2 separate regions of the Homo sapiens genome follow, and region 1 is linked to region 2. The links come from fine-mapping of genetic effects on gene expression. Tissue or cell type: monocytes after R848. Region 2 holds a variant in brackets; the other region holds the start of a gene. All regions are shown on one strand. Distances are between the middles of the regions. Region 1 holds the start of SOS1 (SOS Ras/Rac guanine nucleotide exchange factor 1). Region 2 has its middle 20 kb from the start of SOS1.

What was found.
Region 1: it holds the start of SOS1, and the variant in region 2 is fine-mapped to the expression of SOS1 in monocytes after R848 (Quach 2016, PIP 0.95). The same link has a PIP of 0.9 or more in monocytes after LPS and monocytes after Pam3CSK4.

What each region holds. Positions count from the first base shown.
Region 1 is chr2:39,119,693-39,122,601 of GRCh38, forward strand. SOS1 (SOS Ras/Rac guanine nucleotide exchange factor 1) reads right to left here and starts at 1,359. Exons shown (of 23, transcript NM_005633.4): 1 at 644-1,359. The coding sequence starts at 730. RefSeq lists an enhancer at 229-308 and a silencer at 509-1,228.
Region 2 is chr2:39,139,858-39,142,766 of GRCh38, forward strand. No RefSeq gene overlaps it. Among named protein-coding and RNA genes, the nearest start is that of SOS1, 20 kb to the left of the region's middle. RefSeq lists a cis regulatory region at 2,019-2,471 and a silencer at 2,215-2,399. The variant A/G (reference allele first, on the strand shown) is at 1,497.

The sequences.
Region 1 (2,909 bases), 20 kb before region 2:
TACAAAGGCTAAAAATTCTTAACAAGCCAAATGACAGCACCAAGAATCTCGAACGCTGCAAAAACAAAACAAAACCCCCCTGAAATTGGTAGCATGTGCACCAGCCCCTGTTAATCGGAGGAGCGGGGGAAACCAGGAGAATGAGGAGTGAATACTGACGGCGAGCAGAGCAGGCCACGTTCCTACTGGCAGGCGAGCTCGCAATTCCTTTGAGCAAGCCTTACGGCCAGGGCATTCTCAAGCCACTAAAACCAGCGTACTGGACACCTAAAACGGTAGGCTGACAGCAGCTCCGGGCTAAGACCAAGAAGACGGAAAAGTGGCCTGCTTTGACCTCCGCTGAAAACTGAGGCTCCTCCAACTGTTGTTGTCCTGGAATCAAAGGGCAAAGCATTCACCTCTCAGGGGTTGGATTATCCGGATAAACTCCCCCCGGCTCCCTGCGGCATTCCCACACACCCGGTGGATGTCAACACCGAGAGCCAGCCGTATGAGGGGGGCCTCTCCGTGTGCGCCGTCCTTTTGGAGACGCGGCGAGACCGGGAAGAAAGACGGCCCTGCGCGCGCCCCGCCTCCCCAGCCCTTCCCCAGCGCCCGCGCTGGGGGGCTGCGGCCGGGAAGCGGGGTCCCGCGTGCTCCTCACCTTTTTCAGCGCAGGCACCAGTAGTCCCCGCCACTTGGGCGCGTTCTCTTCGCTGAAAAACTCGTAGGGCAGCTGCTGCGCCTGCATGGTGCCCCCGGGGCGCCTCTGGGCGGGGAGAGGGGCGGCGGCGGCCGGGCCAGGGAGCCGCGAGAGGGCGAGCTCGCAGCGCGGAACAGGGCCGCGGCCCCACCGGACGGCCCGGCCCCCTCCGGGCGCCGCGCAGCCGGGCTAGCCCTGGCGAGGGGGCTGGGGGGCGAGGCCCGCGCCTGGCCACCCACCCGACACAGGTACCAGCCGTGGAGAACGGACGCGGCCCGGAGGCGGCGGCATCCCGCACCACCGCCCCGGGGCCAGGCCCCCCGCCCCTCCCCGGCCCGCCGGCGCCGCCCCGGGCTGCCCTCTGCCGCGGCCGCCGCCCGCCCGCCGGGGCTGCACTCCCGGGCCCGGTCTGGCCCCGCGGCGGAGCTGGCGGCTGGGGGAGGACGTGTGGAGGGACGCTCCGGCCGCGGCGCCCGCTCCGCGTAGTTGGGACTCCGAAACGCAAGAGCCCCGGGCGGGGCGGAGCTGGGGCGGAGGTCTCGCGGGGAAGGGGAAGGACCGGAGGTCGTTGTTGGGGAATCTGGCTGCCCTGAGGTGCCGCCGCGGCCGCCGCCGCCACCGCCGCCGCCGGTGTAGCGCTGGAGCTTCCTACTAGCGAACTGAACCTGCTCGCTACTGAGCATGCGCTGCCGTGCTGGGCTGGTTCGCTCCGGGTTTTCCGGCTCCCGGTGAAGGAGGAGGAAAGCTCGAGAGAGAAAGAGAGAGAGAGACAGGGAGGGCGCCCGGCCGGGCTGTGGCTGCGCTCCTGGGGGCTGCAGGGGAGGGGCGAAGGGGCCCGAGAAGTCGCACCCTGGCAAAGTGGGGCCTGCAAGGGTGGGTGATGACTAGGGTAAAGAGGCTCCCCATTGTGTGGCCTGGCCGTGAGGGCTCCCACCCTTCTCGGAGTCCCTGGGCCCTTCGTTTCGGAAAGGGGTGTGTGTACTTTGTTCCTGAACACGAAGATAAGGACTGCCCAGAGCACGCAATGTATAGTAAACAGACTGGACAAAAGACAGGTGCTCTGTCACGAAACCTACTGCTCAGTATCTGCTGAGTAGTAGAAGTGATTGCGGTGTTTCTAAGTGGTCTTTCCACAAAATAATAAAATGTGTACGTGTAGTATTGATTTTGTGTGAATGTTTTAGATTCCCTCTGTTCATCTTTTAAACCCACTCCAGAAATGAACTCCAGTAAGCACTTTCCTCCAGTGGATATCGAGACCTCTTTTACAGCTCCTAGAGCACTGCACTTATGCCCCTCTCAGGGCGTTCAGTCTATTGTGTTTTGTTATCTTTTGCGGTTCTTTCGACTAGATAATAAACTGGAAGGCAGATCTTTTTCACCAGGGCCTCTACACAGTGTAGAACAGGCACTCAGTCAATGTTAGTGGAATGCTAAAGGAGCAGTATTTATAAACTGTCCCTCCAGGCCACTGTTTGTTTATAATAGGGGCACTTTGTGGCAGACACCTTATGATTTATCATTAATTATCATTTTTTTGAGTATCATCTCATTTAATCCCCATAGCAACCCTATTATTTTCATTTCACCGATAAGAAGGCAGTTTAGAGGAACTAGCCTGGGTTAAAGCTGACATTGTGTCCTGCTATTCCTGAGAACAGTAACCAGGATCACATAAACGAGAAAGGTTCAGTGGTTCTTAATCTTTACAGGACCTCTTTGAAAATCTGGAAAAACAACTCTTAGGTTATTTCCTTTAAAAATACACAGGCCGGCCAGGCGAGGTGGCTCATGCCTGTAATCCCAGCACTTTAGGAGGCCGAGGCGGATGGATCACCTGAGGTCAGGAGTTCCAGACTAGCCTGGCCAACACTGTGAAAACCTGTCTCCATAAGAAATACAAAAATTAGCCGAGCATGGTGGTGGGCGCCTGTAATCCCAGCTACTTGGGAGGCTGAGGCAGGAGAATCGCTTGAACCCAGGAGGCAGAGGTTGCAGTGAGCCGGGATCATGCCACTGCACTCCAGCCTGGGCAACAAAACCAAAACTCCGTTTCAATTCAAAAAAAAATATACACACACACACACACACACACACACATACACACAGACCGGCCGGGCGCAGTGGCTCACGCCTGTAATCCCAGCACTTTGGGAGGCCGAGGTGGGCGGACCATTTGAGTTCAGGAGTTTGAGACCAGGCTGGCGAGACCCATCTTTATTGTTTT
Region 2 (2,909 bases):
AATATTTCCCTGAGGGGACTTGATATCTAAATAATGTTCTATATAATAAATGTTCTTGAGCAAGCGAAGTGTTTGAGCATTTTTTTGGAAAGGGCAAAAGGCTGTTCCAAATTACATTGAAGTCTCTGTGATTCTTAGACTAGGATGATGCAAGGTTGATGTAAATTACAGTATTTTGTTATGACTTTAGGCGAATTAATTTGACTCTGAGGTCTGATCCCAAATCAGATAACAGAGAAATATATTTATAGTTGGCAAGAGCAAACTAGAGATAGTGAAATATCTGGTTTCAGTTTTTATTTTGTATAGTTTTAGGATCTATGTAATACAACACATACAAAGCTACTTAAAATATCTCAGTTACTCTTATTGGAGTAACCTAAACACAAAAATTAATTTGCAAAAACAATAATACCTTGCACTTATTAAGTGATTACTGTGAACCGGGAACTGTACCAAGTGCTTAACATGTATTAACTCACATGTTGCTTTGGAAACCTGGATTAGATAAGGGCTTTTATTATTCCTATCTTACAGAAGAGTAAACTGAGGCATAGAAGGTTTAGTAGTTTACACCAGGTCACACAGCTAAGCAGTGGTTTCACATTCCATGGTCTTCACGACCACACTATAAAGCCTTTCTAAATTTGTGCTTGTAAATATAATTAACTAAGGAGTTTGCCCTATGGTTAACTTATTTAGTTTCGTAATATTTTCAGGAAGAGAATAGAAGCAGTGGGATATTGTGTAAAGAGTCCAGGAGTTTTGAAAGTCAAGACCTGCACGTGGGTTCCAATTAAAGCTCATGTATGACCTTGAACAACACTGTTCTGAACTTCAGTTTCTTCATGTATAAACCAGGTCTAATAATAGTTGCCCTACCTAACTCATAGATTGTCATGAGTATCAGATAGTATAATGGGTGTAAAAGTGCTTTGTAAATTGCAAAGTGATAAACAGAAATGGGTCAGACACATAATCTTAACACTACAAAGAAACAGGTTTTTTTGGCCAGGCACCATGGCTCACGCCTGTAATCCCAGCACTTTGGGAGGCCAAGGCGGGTGGATCACTTGAGGTCAGGAGTTCGAGACCAGCCCGGCCAATATAGTGAAACCTCGTCTCTACTAAAAATACAAAAAAAAAAAAATTAGCCAGGCGTGGTGGCGCATGCCTGTAGTCCCTGCTCCCTGGGAGGCTGAGGCAGGAGAATGGCTTGAACCTGGGAGGCGGAGGTTGCAGTGAGCTGAGATCGCACCACTGCATTCCAGCCTGGGTGACAGAGCAAGACTCCGTCTCAAACAAAAAATGAAACAGGTTTTTCTATTTATAAAACAGTGAGTTCACATCCCAGTTTTAAATATTCTAGATCCTTAAATGATTTCTCTTTACAGTTTATTTATGACTGAATTTTTTCAAACTGGCAATTTTCTTTTTTCCCCCATAATTTACTTGACTTCCCCTTCTGGATGTATTAAAAGTGTTGTAATGTCATT[A/G]TGCAAATAAAGTGTATTTTGCATGCTTTTTCCAAGGGCAAATTTTAACTTCTTGTCATGTTTCCATTTTATCTGCAATATTCAGGCGACATAGTCTGCTGCTCTGGTGGCTCATGCATTTGTGTTTTGCATATTTCATACAAGAAAATAGAGAAAAAAGAGAAGTCAGCCAGATGGGATTCTCTTTCCAGGCAGAGAAGAACTAGAAAAATTTGCATGGCCACGACCTCTTCTATAGACAAAGGATGCTTGTTTTCAGGACTGGCAATTGGTCAGAGGGTGACAACCCATCCCCAAATTCCTGAGGCAGCCCTAGGTTTACAATCTGAGGTTCTGGAATAGTTCCCAAGATGCAATTATTTCCAAATTTAATCAAACCTCAGAAAATAGCTAATTAAAAATAATCATATAAAACAGCAGGCCCTTTCTCCAAAATTAAACACACACTTTCTTATATCGGCTGTTTAGCCAAGTCTTACAAAGACCCGGCCACCTGTTTGGGGTGGGGGGAGGTGTTAGACTTCCTAAGAGGTGACTGTTCTTGGCAGCCACCTCTACCCAGGCCGTCCTGGAATCTGTCATTGTCAGCTTCTGCCAAGAAATGTTTTTGTACTTGCTGGATAAAGACAGGCAAGGAATTTTTTGACCTCTGTTCGAATCCCAAATCCCTTTTCCATACTCTTATTTGTATTCTTTAAATGACATAATTACAGTAATGCTCCTAAAACAGTGGATGGCACTGAAAATGAATGGGATCCTCCCTCTTTCATCTATCTTTCTAGCTCCCTGCAGCCCTGGCTGACCTATTTCTCCAGGCTCTGCCCTACTACCCAGAAAGTTGGGTGTGGTTCCGAGAAGGTTTGGTTGGGGATTTACATTTCAGTTTGCGTTGATGATTTAATCAATTGCTTGTGTCTTTTTCAGCAGAAAACCAAGCAGAATCTTTTTGTCACCAAATTTGTATTTACCAAAATTAATATCTCATTGAGTAGACTACCATAGAGTATGTAAGGGGAGTATTTTTCTAAAATCAGAAAATTGTCAAGAATACATAGACCATAAAGGAGATGCTTGGGAAAGCAATACTTGGGAGTTGAGGAGATTAAAGCCCTTTTCCTGATTAATGTTAACTTATATTAACAGCTAAAACAAGGCCGGGTTCGGTGGCTCATGCCTGGAATACCAGCACTTTGGGAGGCCAAGGCAGGCGGATCACTTGAGATCAGAAGTTCAATACCAGCCTGGCCAACATGGTGAAACCCCATTTCTACTAAAAATACAAAAATGAGCCAGGCATGGTGGCACACACCTGTAATCCCAGCTATTCAGGAGACTGAGGCAGGAGAATCGCTTGAAACCAGGAGGCGGAGGCTGCAGTGAGCTGAGATTGCACCACTGCACTCCAGCCTCGGT